3 separate regions of the Homo sapiens genome follow, and regions 1 and 3 are each linked to region 2. The links come from fine-mapping of genetic effects on gene expression. A gene starts in region 2. Each other region holds a variant in brackets. All regions are shown on one strand. Distances are from middle to middle. Region 1 overlaps MED12L (mediator complex subunit 12L). Region 2 holds the start of P2RY12 (purinergic receptor P2Y12). Region 3 overlaps MED12L (mediator complex subunit 12L).

Region 1 (5,964 bases), 29 kb after region 2:
CAGCAGCAGGCTGGCAGTGTGGTCCTGTCTCCCAGCTATAACTCCAGAGCCTATCCGGCCGCACATTCCAACCCCGTGCTAATGGAAAGACTCAGACAGATTCAGCAGCAGCCGAGTGGCTATGTTCAGCAGCAGGCCTCGCCGTACCTGCAGCCCCTGACTGGCTCTCAGAGGTGATACATGTGGAAATGATGATGGCAATAATGAACAGTCACATTCTCGGGTTTCTTATGCTTCTTATAGGGCATGGTACTTTATCATTGTTTTTATGAGCTTGCATATTTGCAGATAATTTGCATTCTGTCATCTCGTTTTTAGTAGTATCCAGATAGAGGTTCAACATAAAGAATGCTCCATCTTGTTTATTTCATTAAAGATCCTTACAGTTTTGACTCATGTCTTCCAAGACATGAGTGTAACAGTCTTTACGTGATAGTGTGTTTGCTTCAGTGTTCTTTTTTTTCCTCTTCTTTTTTAAAAATTCTCTGAACATATCTAACAGAGAAAACTCTTGATTATTGTTAGGAATGCCTTACTACAATTTGTTGATTGGAGCAATAAAATGTGTGATTGCAATACTAATTGTGCATGGTGCACATGAGAGTTTTGTTATAACTTAGTTTCTACCTTTTCCACCTCAAAGATATTTGGCAAAACAGGATTATGATAGACTTTTTTCTGTTCTTGTTTAATTAGATCCCTTAGAGTGTATAACTGTACTGTCTGTTGTAGTAGCTGCCAGCCACCTGTGGCTGTTTAAATTTAGACTATTTAAAATTAAATTAATAATATAGTTCCTCAGTCACACTAGTCACATTTCAAGTGTTCAGTGGTAGCCAAATGTGGCCAGCAGGACTAGCTTCAATGGTGTGTGACGTGCACTGTGTTTAGAAGGGCCTGTGTTTAAAAAGGCTTCATGCTTAGTTTAATGCTCTGCAGTTTCTCTGTGGAAATTCTTACTAAGTTTTGATCAGGGAGCCTTGTGTTTTCGTTATTCACTGAGACCCCAAAATTATGCAGTTCGTTCTTGTGGCTAGTAGTTATCTTATTGGACAGCGCAGAGAGAAAACATTGCAGCCATCATAGAAAGTTCTGTTGGATAGTACTGTCTTAGCAGCATCATGTAAAACGTGTCCATCTAGTGGATAGCAGCACAGCTCCCATCTGTTACCATCAATGGCTGCATGACGACTCCAAGTAATCGCTCTTTGGAAAGTTAGCAAGGTTGATGGTAACACATTTGAGAAAATAGATATTTTGGATAATAATTTGGAAAATGTGCATTGTATGTACAATTTTTATAATAAATAGCAGCATAGCATGGCCCACAAACTTGAATTTCAAAGCCCAAAAGTTCTGGGTTCAAATCCCACCTGTGCCATTTGCTTTCTTAATAAGTTACCTCTAGCTCTGTTTTTTCATTTTTAAAGTAGGGATAACGAAACTGCTGACCTTAAAGGGCTCTCTGGTGGGGAGTAAATGAAGTAACACATTTCAGACCTTTAGTACAGTGCCTGCTTCAAAGTAAATGCTCAATTAATATTCCTCGTTGTTAAAAACTATTAAATGTTTAAAAAGTGATTTATTGCATGACTGCAATTTTACCTTAAGTCATGTGCTTGCTGTACTTTTTCAAGTGGTCACATCTATTATTTTAACCACTGGGCTTTAGTCTATTTGAATTGTGCAAAGGATTATTGAGCACTGATTGTTTCTTGGTTGGTGTATGTCATGTGCTGGTAGCACTGATTAAAAGTTTGACATTATGCTTGGGCCTGAACCAAGTTGCATTATTCTTTGCCAGACTGAACCATCAGGCTCTACAGCAGAGCCCTCTGGTGGGCGGGGGAATTGATGCTGTGCTGACTTCTGCACATCCAAACCTTCCCTCCGTGCCCCTGCCTCAGGATCCCATGAGACCCAGACAGCCGCAAGTTCGACAGCAGCAGAGACTCCTCCAGGTACGGGGCAGGGAGATGAGGGCAATGCCATCACCCTTCAGACAGTGCAAATATGCAACAGTCATAAAAAATGAAAAACACTATAGTTGTCAATTGCCAGATTCCAAGGATCCCTGTGGATTTGATGCTAGGAGCTACATTGGTACAATTTAGTTACAACTTGGCAAGAATTTTATTTTCTCTGTGTATCTACCAGGTTATGGGCAGAAGAGTACGTTTTGCAGAACATTCTTCCCATTTCACAAAGGTTTGGGAGGGCAGACGGATGCCTTTAATAGAGTTGGCCTCAGCTTACCCAGTCTCTGTTTAAGTAGGAGCCATGCAAATTTTTTAAAAGTGTCATAAATGTGAAAACAAAAAACTGAGCCATCCAGAGCTTTCATCAGATTCCTAGAGCATTCTGCAATCTAAAAACATTTCTATAACACCTCTGGTCTGATAAGGCTGTGAAATGGGAGGAACATAGACTGTTTCAAAGGATATTTCATCTTGTCTTTGTTAGAATCCAGAGAACTGTCATTCACTTATTTGATGTACATTTTAAGTCAGTTAGATAAAGGGTTCTTCCCCTTGATACATTTTTTTTTTTTTTTCCCCTTAAGACGGAGTCTCCCTCTGTCACCCAGGCTGGACAACCTCCACCTCCCGGGTTCAAGTGA[T/C]TCTCCTGCCTCAGCCTCCTGAGTAGCAGGGATTACAGGCGCCCACCACCACCCCTGGCTAATTTTTTTGTATTTTTAGTAGAGACGGGTTTTTGCCATGTTGGCCAGGCTGGTCTCAAACTCCTGACCTCAAGTGATCCGCCCACCTCGGCCTCCCAAAGTGCTGGGATTACAGGTGTGAGCCACCACACGCAGCTTCCTTGATATGTTCTTGTTTCTGACTTGCTTATTTAAAAAATATAGGCCATTATGTTTACCTGTGTCATTTGTCTTCAATATTAACAAGCTTGTCCTATGTTATTGGACTGGAGATTTCCTAAGGAGACTGTACAGTGGGCTCTAATCTTATCAGCAGTCCAACTTGAGATACACACTTACTTTATATACTACCAAGAACAGAACACCAAAAATGAGGAATCTAGTAGAGCTGGAGTGCCCAAGGGCTGTACTCTCAACTCGGTATGAGGTCAGTGAGAAGTAAACCTGCCATGCAGAAAGGGACACAAAGGAGCTTGGATGTCTTATCCTTGACACTGGATAGAGGGGAGAAACAAATATCTCCCCTGAGCATTTGAACCACAAGCTCCGGTGGGTTTGAGTCTGAATTCAGTGTGATCCACAAAATTCTGGTTGGTAGTGCCCAGGTGACAGGCAAAAGCCAACACACCCTCTGGAACTGGGCTTCCCAATTATAAGATGCCATTAGTAGTAAGATGTCATTAGTTCCATCCCAATTTGTGACCTGTTAAAAATGTTAAAAAAAAAAAAAGTTGTATCACAAAATTGATAACATGTGGTAACCGATTAGGAGAGTATGGCCTTCAGATAGCAATCTCAGTCATTGTATAGATGTTGTTTCCAATGGTAAAAGCTCTCTAATCCTGTTTTGTCATGGAAATACTTATAGTACCTATCTCTTAAATATGTAGAAAGGATTAAATAAGAATATTCAAGTAAACCACTCATTTGATAATTTTACGATTAATGTTATGACTATTATCATTACTATGAGTACTCACTTTCTTAAATCATTTTTTCCAAGTTCTGAGGCTATGTTTCAGAATTTTTTAGGATTGATAATTTATATTTTGCTCTAGTTTAGAATTTCTCATTTCCAAATCACTGAGGAAAGTTACCACATTATTTGTTTACTTACCAGTTTTAAATCTTATGTTGGTGTTTTTCAAGGCTGCAAATACGGAAAGCCTTTTCTTATTAGACCATATGTACTTTTTATCCTAATTAGCATAATATGTCCTTCTGGTAATTTTTTCATCATCAACACATTCTTCCCTGGAGATAAGTGATTTGCTTCTACAACAGGATTATACTTCTTTTTTGGTGACTGGCCACCTCTGTAAAGGAAAAAGTTAATAATGATGAAGTTGGGTTAATTTTTCTTAGAAGAGGTTCTAGAGGGCTAACTGGAGAATCATATTGCAGTCATTGTGATTTGGGTCCAACTTGCGTTGTTCTTGTTGGGATCATGCTACCCAGACCTCTGCTAGGATTCCAGATCCATGAGCATTGTCACTTAGTGAGACATGCCATATGGCAATAGCTATTTATTAGTTGGCTGTAAAGCAGACCAGTAATTGAGGGGATAGTATGCAAACCAAGTTGGAAAAGTACAAAAGATGAAGAAATGTCTAGACTGTCATCATTATCAGGATGAAGTGTTTGGGTGGAGGAAATTTTAAAGGTCATTGAAACAAAACAAAACAACTATTAATATTTTTCTCTCCTCTGTGTCCCACCTTGTGGATGTCTGGTCTGTGCTTTTTCTGTGACTTGGAAGCATTTTCCAAGAGCTGTGTGTTTGAGCCAACCCTGTTACTGACATGATTTCTGAATTTCTGATGTAAATTATGCCAGAAGGTGTCATGGCGACTAGTCTGCCTCTTCCTTTTGGAAAAAAACAAAAAACAAAAAAAAACCTTTAAGAATTCTGCCAGATATCATAAAGAATGAGAGGATTACTACTGAGCAGTCCCCGTCCAACCTGTAGTGTAAGAAGGGATAAAACATGCGGAAGGACAAAGGACATGAAAGGAATTAAAACAGTAAGCAGAAGGGATGGCCCCGGACAGCGCAGTGTGGAATAGACAGCAGTACTGACTGCCAGTGGAAGAGATCCGTAGGGTTGGGGTGGTCCTAGAAGGCTTCATGGATGAGCAGGTTTAGGTCTTGCCCTCAAAAGGACGAATGAGGTTCAGCAAGGTAGAGATGCAGCAGGCAGGTATATATTGTTTTTACTACAACATAAAAATTAGATAAAAGGTATATGGGGGAAACAGATTCAGCAATGCTGTTTTCTTCTTCCTTTTAAGTGTATAACATTTTTACCCTCTTTCCAGATGCAGCAGCCCCAGCAGCCCCAGCCCCAGCAGCCTCCCCAGCCCCAGCAGTCCTCGCAGTCCCAGAGTCAGACCCTTGGTCTCCAAGCAATGCAGCCCCAGCAGCCCTTGGTAAGGCCTGTTGTTTTGGAATCAGACATGTGGGTTTCTTCTTTAAAAGCAGGTTGCATTGTTCATGTTCATAAGATTGTTAAGAATCGACAAAGCCTAAGTATACCCTAAAAATTTTTCCTAGAACTTTACTAGAGTTTTATTGTCATTGTAGTTGGTATATTTATTTTCATAGGAAGATACAAGTAAATATTTGGGATTCAGTAGGTTATACCATTATTCTTCAAAATTTTTCGGACTGTTCCACAGACAAAATTTTTTACATTGAGACGTGGTCTTTTTTTCCTAAACAATGATAAAACGATGATTTACTATGTATGTTTAAAAGAGTGTCTTACCATACTTTGATTTTTACTATAATCTCAAAAACCATGGGCGCACTTTCTAAAATATTATCTATTATCTTCAATAAGAAATTGTTTTTCATTCAGTTAGCACTTGCTGCAAGAGTTTTCATGTAACTCACAGTCGGATAGTTCACTTCTCTAGCTTCATAAATCAAATTTGGAAATGTCATATGCATAGCCATCAAAGTTTTCTAAACCTCAGTCATTTACAACAGCCATATTCCTGTTTCATTAATTACTTTTTTTTAAACTGTCATCTTATTATATTTGCTTAAATAAATGTAGTTTTCAAAGAAGCATTTTATCATTACCATCCATAATTATATCACTTGCCACATATTGGAAATATCTGTGAAAGTAAATACAAAAATAATTTAGAAGGGAATCTCCATTTAACTGAGTGATGTGAATTGCATGAATGAGCCCTACCTACGATGAGCTGGCTGACCGCTCATGTCTCACACTTTGAGAAACACTAGTGTAGACTGCCTTCAGCACAGGATTTTTAAACTAGCTGGTTTCACAACTT
Region 2 (5,964 bases):
CTTCGTAAGATCAATGAGGTAATGTATTTTAAAAGTTTTTATTAATGCTTAATTTGATGGCCCTCTCAAGCATTTTCCCAGACTTAATCATAGGCTAGCTATATAATTATATAAGATTTTCTTCCTCCACCTAGAACGGCAAATGCACAAATAAATAGCCAGATTTCTTTCTGCATGGAGGAAGAAGAAAGCTAAAATTTTATTTAGCTTTGTTTGTTAATTTGTTAAAGATAAGAAGTGGTTTTTTGCTATCAGTATAAAGCTCAATTTATCTTTAAATGAGAGAAAAATTAAACTTTAATGGGGAGTTTTTTTCCGGATCTTAGATTTTAAGTAACTGGAGAGAAGAACGATACCAAGATGACATAAAAGCGCGGCAGATGATGCACGAAGCATTGCAACTCCGCCTAAATTTGGTAAGTGACATTTCTAGTATTTTCCCTCCATTAAACATATTTACATGTGAAAATACCTCCAGCTTTCCACTTCTCCTAAGTGCAAAGTCTGCATTACAAGGTGAGGCCTTCCACTCTTTGCTCTCTGTAATTACTTCCCTGTTTCTAAAGCCTTCTGTTTCCCTTGCTGCTTTCCTTCCTGTCTGGTCAGACATCTAGACAGTGCTAGGTATTTTAAGCATAGATTTGCCTTCTCTACCTCTACCCCAGTGAATCTCTCCTTCTCTTCAGTTTGTGCTAAGAATAAATCTGAGAAGACTGTTATAAGTGTTAGCTTCTACTATACTTACTTAAAACCATTTAAAAAGTCTTTTAACTCAAAGTTTTGTCCAACTTTCCATCAAATTGATTATAAAGACAAATCCCACAGAGAAGTTTTATAGAAATTTAAAATGTCTCACATATTGTGCATTCCTTGAGTTTTCTTTTCCCATCAGGCAGGCCCAAGTGCAGGCCCCTCTGGAGGATGGCCTGCCTGATACTTTTGCAGTTGTTTCTAACCTTGTCCCAACACGTGAACTGGTAGGTGTGCGGGCCAAGCCTCCTGCCCACCACTGCTGTGATAGTGGATGTTTCCATATGGTATTATGATAGCAGGCTTAGATTCAATAGTAATTGTACAGCAAACACAAAGATGCAGATAATTGGATTACATGACTTTGACATTATTCAGGTTTAATTCAACTATAATTGCATCATAAAACTGGACATCATAAAAGATTTGGAACAAAAGAAAGCTAAGTTTATTGGTGCCCACATTCAGATACTCACGTCCCTTCTTCATTTTAGTTAATGTTTGAATGACTGAACTGTGCTGAAAGAACTAAAAATAGTGATAAACATGTAGGTAAAAGAGAAAAGATAAGGTAATCTATAAACTAGAGCATCCCTTGTTTTTTTAAATAAAAAACAATCAAAATTTGATAACATAAAGCAATGGGGTGTTCTTTCTGTTTTACAGAATGCAAATATCTTACTGTATTTTGTCTGCTAGGTAGGAGGAATGTTTGACACGGTGCAGAGGAGCACCCAGTGGACTACAGACTGGGCCCTGCTACTCCTTCAGATCATTACTTCAGGAACTGTTGACATGCACACTAACAAGTATGTTTTTATCACTTCACATTGATTTTGCTACATGTATGCATGGTATAAGCTTTGATATACTGATGGCGATTTCTGCCACATCTTATTTACTTGGATGCTATTAAAAATTCTGTGCCTTGAATAAAAATACTCAGTTAAATAAGTGTATTTCAGTTTCACTTTAAGATGAAAATAATTATTTTCTTTCTTAGTGAATTATTCACAACAGTTCTTGACATGCTGGGTGTTTTAATCAATGGAACGTTAGCCTCTGACCTATCAAATGCATCCCCTGGGGGATCTGAAGAGAACAAGCGTGCATACATGAATTTAGTAAAGAAACTGAAAGTAAGTTTGAGATCAGCCTGTATTATGAGCTCAAGTTGTTTATGGATTTATTATCTAGTGCATTTTAATTTATTACTCATTAAATGTTATTAATTGTATTCAACTTAATTTAATGTGATTATTTGCTATTTGTTTCACCTAACCTTATTAGTACCCAGAAGTTACATGCACATAACCTTGATTATTTTTTATTGAAAACAATTACATTATAAAACATGTTTAATTTTTTAAAGAACTTTAGAAATCCACTGTTAAATATATAACCAGAATACTAACATTAGATAGATTTAGGATAACTCTATGCTTGGACTGGCACGTGTAATTGAAAAAATAGCCATCTGCATTGAAATTTATAAATCGATTCATTTGACCGACCACTAACAGACTCCTTTAAAAAAAAATTGTAAGAAAACAGTGCAAAAAAGAAACCAAATAAATCTGATGCATTACCAATCAAATAAATCAATGGTTACCTTGTAATCTGACCCTGGACATGAGAAAGTGTTCTGTTCTGCAGCTCCTGTCTTCTGATTGTGATCACTACCCTGGATTTTTGTCATTTCAGCACTATGATGTTTGTTGTGTAACAACAGTGCCTTTGTATGTGTTCTATTTTCTACTTAAATAGAAGAAATGAAACACTCATTGCTCTATTTGGAACTGCCTTGTAGAACATGTTCAGGGTTAAAGAACATGCGCTAAGCTATAAAAAGGGAAATGTTTCATAGGGGAACTTCCTTCTGGTTAACTTTTGCCTTCATTGTAATTTCTGTCCCACTTCTCACTCTCTCTCTCTCTCTTTTTTCTTTAGAAAGAGCTAGGAGACAAGCGATCAGAAAGTATTGACAAAGTTCGACAGTTACTACCTTTGCCGAAACAGACATGTGATGTCATCACTTGTGAACCTATGGGTTCCTTGATTGACACAAAAGGAAACAAAATTGCTGGATTTGACTCTATAGATAAAAAACAGGCAAGAGTGAATGTTTTTTCTTATATATAAATTTATTTACAAAAGATGAAATACTTTTTTTTGTCTTACCATAGGATATATAAAATATATTAATTTTGCTGTTGATGTTTTTAAGGCATATGCTTGTCTTCTAAGTGTACTTAGTCATTGGCATTATCATATAAAGAGGTCATATCTTTGAAGATCTACGTTTTATATGTTTAAAGGACTTAAAATGTTTCCCTGAATTTAAGTAAATTTTTGGAAACCTACCAAGAGAAAACTAAGTAAAAGCTTAGTGTAAAAAAAAAATTGCATAAATAAGTTCTGATTATACTTCAGATTTAGAAGCAGAATATATTTATCAATGAAAAATTTCTTGTAAGCTGAGCATGGTGGCACATGTCTTTAGTTCCAGCTACTTGGGAGGCTGAGGCAGGAGGATTGCTTGAAGCCAGGAGTTTAAGGCTGCAATGTGCTAGGCTCATGCCTGTGAATAGCCACTACACCCTAGCCTGGGCAACAAAGTGAGACCCTGTCTCTGGGGGGGGAAAAAAAAAAAAAAACCTTCCTGTAGTAAGCTATTTCAAATAAAAATTATTTTAATTGTTAGGATATTCTCTATTCCTATCAAGCAGTATTTAATGGACATTTGTTTTATATAAGATATTAAAGATGGTTCTCTAAAATATGAGAAAATTGGTCAGTTACTCTTTTAATGAACAGTAAGCAACCACCGACATTCCACAATCACCAAGATGAAAGACAGAGTTCCTACCCTCAAGGGGGAAGTAGACAGACAATTACAGTGTAATGAGATTTGTGTGACATGGTACAGAGAGAGTATTAGGGGATAGAATAGAGGGTCCCCAGGAAAATTGACACGAGTCATTTTGAAGGATTAAGAGTTAGCTGGGAGGTAGGGAAAATTGTGGTACAAATAAAGGGAGAGTTTATATGAAGACATGAAAGAATCAGATTTACCAGGGAATTTAGAGTAGCCTGAGAATCTAATACCAGTTTGTGTAAAGAAAAAAAGCTAAAGTCATGGTCAAGTTTGAGTTTGCAGTGTCAGCGGACTTCCTGGTAGTAAGACATCTGGAATCCATTTGGATGTGTGGTTTTTACACCAAGGAAAAAGTTCTCATCTCAAGACAAATATTAGGAAACAGTCAATTTACAGGTGGCAATTGAACCTTGGTTTTATTTTGTTTTACTTTGTTTATTTATATTTTTTGAGATGGAATCTCGCTCTGTCGCCCAGGCTGGAGTGCAGTAGTGCGATCTTTGCTCACTGCAACCTCTGTCTCTCGGGTTCAAACGATTCTCCTGTCTCAGCCTCCTGAGTACCTGGGATTACAGACATGCACCACCAGGCCCAGCTAATTTTTTTTTGTTTTTGTCTTTGTTTTTTTTTTTTTTTCAAGACAGAGTCTTGCTCTGTCACCCAGGCTGGAGTGCAGTGGCGTGATCTCGGCTCACTGCAACCTCCACCTCCCGGGTTCAAGCAATTCTCTGCCTCAGCCTCCTGAGTAGCTGAGATTACAGGTGCCTGCCATCATGCCTGGCTAATTTTTGTATTTTTAGTGGAGACGGAGTTTCACCATCTTGGCCAGGCTGGTCTTGAACTCCTGACCTCGTGATCCACCTGCCTCAGCCTCCCAAATTGCTGAGATTACAGGTGTGAGCCACCACACCTAGCCTTTTTTTGTATTCTTAGTAGAGACGGGGTTTCACCATGTTGGCCAGGCTGGTCTCAAAGTCCTTACCTCAGGTGATCCCACCCGCCTCAGCCTCACCAAGTGTTGGGATTACAGACACGAGCCACTGTGCCTGGCCTGAACCTTAGTTTTAGATGAAGCTACTCATAAAAGAATGCATATAGATAACAACAGTAACACTTACATCTTAGGGAATGACTGAGTAGTTATTTGGGGGCCATTTAAGGAAAAATATTTTTAAATTGACATTTTAAGGCAAGTGCCAAGAGATGTCACCAATTAATGTTAAGAATAAAAAGAGGGTAACCGTTTTTTTTTTTCTAGAGTCAGTAAATATAAGCTTGAGTTGAAAGACTTTACTTATTCCTGCTGCTACAATTTAATTCTCTAATAATAATATTATATTCAGAGTATGGCTTATTAAGTACAGGGCCCACATATTGAACCAAGTTCATGCAGATTTGGATTGAAGTTAATACTAACCCAATTACAGGTTGACTATAACTTGACTCTTAAATTTGATATTATCTTCAAAATTATAAATAGATTACAGAGATTTAGAACTGGTTATAATTTAGTAAGATTAACTTTGCAGTGTTAGAATTTTTAGCAACAAATTTTTAGAATTTTTTTAGCAAAAAGAGGAAATACACATTAACAATAAAATATGCTAGACTGCCTCTGTTGCCTAAACAGAGCATCATGTGGTTAAAGAACTGTAGAACCGGGCTTACAAAGGTCTGAATTCTAGCCACTGCTCTCCGGTGATGTAGCTGTGTAACCCTCTCTGCTGTATTCTCGGGTTCTCTAGGGCTCATGCCAGCCAAAGTGTTCTCTGACTCCATGTCCCATACAAGCCTGGCCTATGAATAAGGAAAAGATCTGAGTGTGCTATCTTAGAGCGCTATTTTCCCACAGGGTCTCCAGGTCTCTACGAAGCAGAAGGTGTCCCCGTGGGACTTGTTTGAGGGTCAGAAGAACCCAGCTCCTTTGTCCTGGGCCTGGTTTGGGACAGTCCGAGTGGACCGAAGAGTGATCAAGTACGAGGAGCAGCATCACCTCCTGCTGTATCACACACACCCCATGCCCAAGCCCCGCAGTTACTACCTCCAGCCACTGCCCCTGCCTCCTGAGGAGGAAGAGGAAGAGCCCACATCTCCAGTTTCTCAGGAACCAGAAAGGAAGTCCGCTGAGCTGTCAGATCAGGGAAAAACCACAACAGATGAAGAAAAGAAAACAAAAGGAAGGAAGCGCAAGACGAAATCTAGCTCAAGAGTTGATGTAAGTGGGGAAAGGAAGGAGAACCTTGGCTCATTAGCATTTAGTATGAGATTTACTCGTGCCCAAATCATATCCCTCGAAACATTACCAAGAGCAGGATAAGTTTTGTTATGACAGTTCT
Region 3 (5,964 bases), 24 kb before region 2:
TAAAACTATTATTTCACTTCTTCGTACTTATGTGAACAGTACACTGGATTACGATGTGAAATGTTTTTCTTATTGCTTGCAAATCAAAGAAGTTGAGGAAACACTGACTACTATACGATGGATACCTAAACCTAACAGACTCTGAATAAATGTTTATTTACTTTAGTCACAAAATAATTTTTCGCTTTATAGATAATATCAGGATTTTGTTTAACTTTTATTTTAGAACAGATTTATTACAGGTTTATTACAAAGGTATATTGCTTGGTGCTGAGGTTTCAGGTTATGATTGAAACCATCAGGAAGTGAGCATAGTACTCAGTAGGTAGTTTTGCAGACCTTTCCTCTGCTCTCTGTCTCCCCACTTCAGTAGTCCCCAGTGTCTGTTGTTCTCATCCTTATGTCCACGTGTACCTCATGCTTAGCTCCCACTTACAGTGAGAATATGTGCTTGGCTTTCTGTTTCTGCATTAGTTTGCTTAGGATAATGGCCTGCAGCTACATCTATATTGCTGCAAAGAGCATGATTTTGTTCTTTTTTATGGCTGCATAGTTTTTGGTTTGCTTGTTTATATAGTTAACAGGTTGAATCATTACTTTTCTTCTTAATTGTGTGACACTTTTGTTCTAATTGGCAGCTTTTACCTGCTGCTAGGTAGTCCCATCTGTTGATGTCATTTCACAGGGTTTGGGATACTACATTGCCATTTCCTCAAGAAGTCTCCTTGGTTCCACCTATGGTACCTGTGATTCCATTGTCCTCCTTGGCCTAGACATCCTATGTTCTCTCCACTTTGCCCTTTCCCCTGAATAGTACAGAGGAGTTTGATCTGGGAGTCTGGAAACCTAAGCTGTTGTCTTGCTTCTGCTAGAACTAGCTCTTTGCCTTTGAGCAAGTCACCCCACCTTTCTGCCTCTCAGAGCCTCCTTTATACAATAAGGATGGTGAATCAGATAGTTTCTAAAGCTTTTTTCGTCTTTAATAATCTGTCATCTGTGACTCCGTTAGTGTAATATAATGGCTGAGCCCTGTAACAAAATACAAGATGGTGATGGAATCAGATGCACAGATAGGTGAATGGACCACAAGTGTTTACAGCTGTGGTGTATGGACTTCTGTGTTGTATGGACTGTGGACAAAGAGGCCTATAACTACAGGAGTTATACAGAATATTACAAAACAGAAGGGGCTTTATCTTCTTATATAAGATAAACTAAAATAAATTTATTACTAGTTGGTATACATAGGGGAATGTATACATGCATAAGGGGAATGTGACTCCAAACCATGAACTGCTTATGCACTTGAAAATGGGTTTTCCAGATTGACTGCTTTGAAGCATTGCTCCTTTACAAAGGAGAAAACTTGGGAATCTTTGCACGCTGATGGAATTTGTGAATCTGCGGAGGCAGGGGCTCTCTACAACAGTTTTCCTTTTGTGTCTCAGTCCCAGCAACTTAATCGGTGGATTCCTCCATACGTACCTTCTTTATGAAGGAATTTCTTTCCTTGCTTTTGTTTCTTGTCATCAGTGACATTTCTGAAGTTTTTTTTAAAATCTATTTCAGTGTCATAATAGAAAAATTATATTGTACTGAGTTATTTACTATTCTATTTATTAGTTTCAACAATCCAATATCCTTTTTCTTACCCAAGTGATACATATTTTCATTCTAAAAGAGTCAAATGATAACCCACATAGTACAAATCTATGTCTTATTTCTTCGTATATTTTTCTCCTCAGGTTGTGTGGTGTGGTCAAGCATGTCGTAAACCCCTCAGAATGTTCTTCCCCTGAAAGATGCATTTTAGCCTACCTCTATGATCTCTATGTGTCATGTAGCCACCTCAGAAGTAAATTTGGAGACCTCTTCAGGTGAGTAGAAGAGACTCAAAAGGACAGAAATAGGATCATGCCTATGTTTGTTAGTGACCCTGACAATATTGTCATCCTTTTGAATAATGAAAGCTAATTGCAATTGTATCTATTAGGCAGTAATTTTGATATACTCATGATTTGTTTAAACTGAATATTAAAATAGACAGGGACAATACACGATAGTCTATTACACAATGTAAATGTGTGATCATAGGTTTTTTTTCCCCCAATATTGAAATGATGTTAGGTCTGATTTTATTTCTTCAATAAATAAAGTATTTCTTAAGATTTTACATTTTCTATATGTTGTACAGACAGTGCATTTTAAGTAAGTCCTACTGAAGTAATGATTATTTGATATATCTTTCCATTTTAAGTTTAAAATTCAATTTGGATTATAAATCTAATAGAAAGATCAATGAGGCAGCTCTTTGTATTTTGCTTTATTTGTATCCCTCTTGATTTTGATATCTACCTTTTCTGAGCTGACTTTTTGCATTACTTGGATTAGCTTTAATATCCTTTGGGCATTACAGTGTTTCATTTTTTATTTCCTGGTGACTCATAGAAGGTTCTATAGCCCCATTCACTTTTCTAGAACTTTTTCAGACTGTGTTTACTTTTCCTCTTTTTTCACAAAAACAATTTTGCTGTTTAGCAGGTAACTTTTTCATGTGTTAATGAGTTTTTTTAAAATGACCAGTACCCTCACTGAATAACATTAAATCAATGTGCATTAAAAGTAGGAAACCTGGTTTCTATTACAGATTGTATTAGATTCAGGTTCAGCTTGATAAATGCTATCTAATGTTTCCTGGTATGAAAAAAATAGAACTGAATTAATCATAAAAAGGTACTGTAAATTCTGCAGTTAACCTACTTGCTATCTTAGACTTAAAATTCATGACCTGATAATGATAGTAGTATTTGATTCCTGTCAATACATCTTATTGCTGAAGGAATATTTTATTGTTTAATGAGTCCAGAAAGTTGTATTTTTATAAATATTTTTATTTTCTTAATACTCTTATCCAGAATTTGTATTGAATTATTTTTGGCTGTAGCTATAACCTTTATTACAAATTACTGTAAGTGTGAGAGACAATATTCTGTGCTTTGCTCTTGAAATCACCCCACTCAGAACATTCTTTCAGAGCTATTTGCATGCTGACTTCTTCACTCCGTTTGTCTTTCTGCTTCCATGGCCATTCCTACTTCAAATAGCATCCCCAACTTCCTGTCATTCGTTGTATCTTAGCACTTGCTACCCCCACAGGCAGCACTAGGGCTGGAAAGTAAATGCTTATTTAATGTTATTTTGAGGACAATTATTTACTATAGATGGGTAGGAGGAGAGTGGTAGAAGGTAATAGCTAAGAAAACAAATTTGGAATCCAGAAGGAGGTAGGGAAAGGATGTTCAACTACCATTTTTTTTCCTTTGTCATACCTCGTATCCAGTTTGTAAATTCTGTGATCTCTGCCTTCCAAGCATCTCTAGAACCTGCCCATTCTTCACCCTCTCTTTACCGCTGTGGATACCTCTGCTTGGACCATTGCAGAG[T/G]TCTTCTAACTGGTTTCCTTGCTTCCACCCTTAACTCTAAAACACATTTTCAACATCCACTAAAGTGATCCTTTTAATATACGAATGATTCACAGGCTTTCAGTGATTTTCCACCCACTCAGAATAAAATTCACCATCCCTACCTAGCCTTCAAGATCTGCAGGGTCCCATCTTCTCTTCCACCCCTTTCCCTCTGTTTATTGTGGCCACACAGACCTCTTTACTGATCAAACACTCTAAGAACAACCCACAGTAGGGCTTTTGCACTTTATCTTACGTTGCTTGTGATACTTGTCCTCAGTTACTTGTGTGCCCCACTCCCACACTTCACTCACGACTGTCTCCCTGAGCACACCATTTTAAATAGCACCCCCATGTCATCATTCTGAGCCTCAGCACTTGCTACCCCCACTGTAGATTCTATATTTATTTATGGCCTGGCTCCTCCTTAGAATGTATGCTTCATGACAGCAGAAGCTTTTTCTATTTTTTTCACTGCTACATCCCAGTGTCTTGAAGAGTATGTGGCTCTTAGTAGGCACTGAAAAAAAAATCTGTTGAATGATAGTTATATCTAAGACAATTCATGTTTTTAATGGTATTAATAAAGTGTGAAAATATGAAATGGGTTAGGTTTCAAAATAATCCTTTGTGAAATATTTGAGTGGGTCTTAGGAAATATCTTTCCACAGAAATTGTGTCACAATTTAAAAATACTTAACATTCTTCTCTTACTTTACATAGAGCTTTCCATTTCAGCTTACATTTTTCAAAGAGCTTTCTCTTACATGATTTAGTTCTTACAGCAGCCGTTTTTTTAATAGTGAACTTCCTCAGACAGCCCCAGTAGCCTATTTGACCCTTAATACTCCTGCAGTGTGGTGCAAATAGGTTAAATGAGGTAATTCAAGTAACATGCGCTGGGCGTGGGGTGTGTGGAAATTTAGGGTACCAGCACACAGTGAATAGAGTAATTACTCAGGGGTCAGCAGAGTGGCACATCATAGTGATTGGCACTGTCTAAAGTTTCCTCTATTTGAAAAAATGAAAGAGAAATACAACTTTCTTGGGATATCTTGAAGTCAGAGACCTATTTGTAGTTTGAGATGAAGAAAAATGGGCAAACAAAAGCTGGATACACAGAGAGATTTCTATCAGTATGCTGATAAAACAACTTTAATAATTTTATCTGAACCACCATTCATAAAGTTGTGTGAGAGGAGTATTTTTTTCTGAAACACCATTCACACAGTTGTGTGAGAGGAGTATTTGGGGGAGATACAACACTGGTCACCTCTACCACTGATTGAGCTACTGCTGTGTGCCAAGCACTGTGCTGGGTTATTTCCATCAAGAGCTTTATTTCTCACATCAACCTCAAGAAACTGAAAATGTCATGACTCTGAATTGCAAACTTGTATCCTTCAATGACAACCAACACATTTTTTAAAATATAAGTTGTCTACACAGAAAGAGAGTGTAGAAGATTGTAATTGCTGCCATTTAGTAGATGACTTTAGTCCTCTTTGTTAGAGTAGTGCTTCCCAAGCATTACTTGGCACTTGATTTATGTGGGAGATCTTGTTACACATACGGACTCTATACACCCACAGTGGAGGCCCAGGATTCTATATTTTTAACAAACACCCCAAAAGTGATTCTCAAGGAATAGAGCTGAAACTACATTTTGGTAAACATTGAACTGAACAATCTCTGTTTTCTTAAAGCTATTGACAGTGGCAATAGTTTAGAATAGAGAGTCTTTGTGACTTTTCATCTTCGAGGGACTCATTCCTGGCTGCCATTGATGCAAGTATATAACAATATGGGGTTTAAAAAAAAAGCCATAGGTCACCACAAACCACAAATACTTTTGCTGCCAAAAACTTAATCTATAAAACAGACTTTCTGATGCATAAAAGAGCTTTTGAGTAGAGAGAGTGAATGTTGTTTATGGATATGCTACCTACAGAAGGTAAGCACAAATGGCTAAGTTTATATAGAATCTGAGATTTTACATCAAATCTTTCTGCCAGTCTCATTCACAGAGCAGGTTTGGAGGAGATAGGTTCTAATTCCTGTTATACTTCTAGTAGTCTATATCTGATTCAGACGTAACTCACTGAAACATGAGCTGTTTTTATATGATAGAGCAGGCTCTTTAAAAATCTCTTAATGCCTCTGAGAAATACAACATGATAAGTTTTTATGAATGATATAATAGTTTTTTCACTTCCATAGAATTTGTGTATTATCCATATCCCCTTACTAGAATGTAAGTTCATTGAAGACAAGGAATGTGCCTCTCTTTTTCACAGCTGTGCCATAGTCTCCAGAATAGTCTTGGCACACGAACTTCTACTGCGTACACTATACCAGAGAAATAGTTTTGTAAGATATGTAATTAAGAGTACTCTTATGTGTAATTGAATCTTTTTTTATTTTTAAGTAATAACACTTTTCAACAACTGTTAAGACACAGTTGTTGGAAGCCATAGTAATTTCTTTGATTTTTAAAGCA

What was found. PIP is the estimated chance that this variant, and not a neighbour inherited with it, causes the effect.
Region 1: its variant is the best candidate, but not a certain one, in a credible set for the expression of P2RY12 in whole blood (TOPMed, PIP 0.68).
Region 3: its variant is the best candidate, but not a certain one, in a credible set for the expression of P2RY12 in whole blood (INTERVAL, PIP 0.67).

What each region holds. Positions count from the first base shown.
Region 1 is chr3:151,411,335-151,417,298 of GRCh38, forward strand. It overlaps MED12L (mediator complex subunit 12L), which reads left to right. Exons shown (of 45, transcript NM_001393769.1): 41 at 1-173; 42 at 1,805-1,961; 43 at 4,978-5,088. Among named protein-coding and RNA genes, the nearest start is that of P2RY12, 30 kb to the left of the region's middle. The variant T/C (reference allele first, on the strand shown) is at 2,621.
Region 2 is chr3:151,382,330-151,388,293 of GRCh38, forward strand. It overlaps P2RY12 (purinergic receptor P2Y12), which reads right to left and starts at 2,424. Exons shown (of 3, transcript NM_022788.5): 1 at 2,363-2,424. It overlaps MED12L (mediator complex subunit 12L), which reads left to right. Exons shown (of 45, transcript NM_001393769.1): 33 at 327-416; 34 at 1,450-1,559; 35 at 1,754-1,889; 36 at 2,701-2,862; 37 at 5,481-5,843.
Region 3 is chr3:151,358,729-151,364,692 of GRCh38, forward strand. MED12L (mediator complex subunit 12L) reads left to right here. Exons shown (of 45, transcript NM_001393769.1): 21 at 1,746-1,877. The region is part of intron 1 of P2RY12 (purinergic receptor P2Y12); the gene reads right to left. Among named protein-coding and RNA genes, the nearest start is that of P2RY12, 23 kb to the right of the region's middle. The variant T/G (reference allele first, on the strand shown) is at 3,444.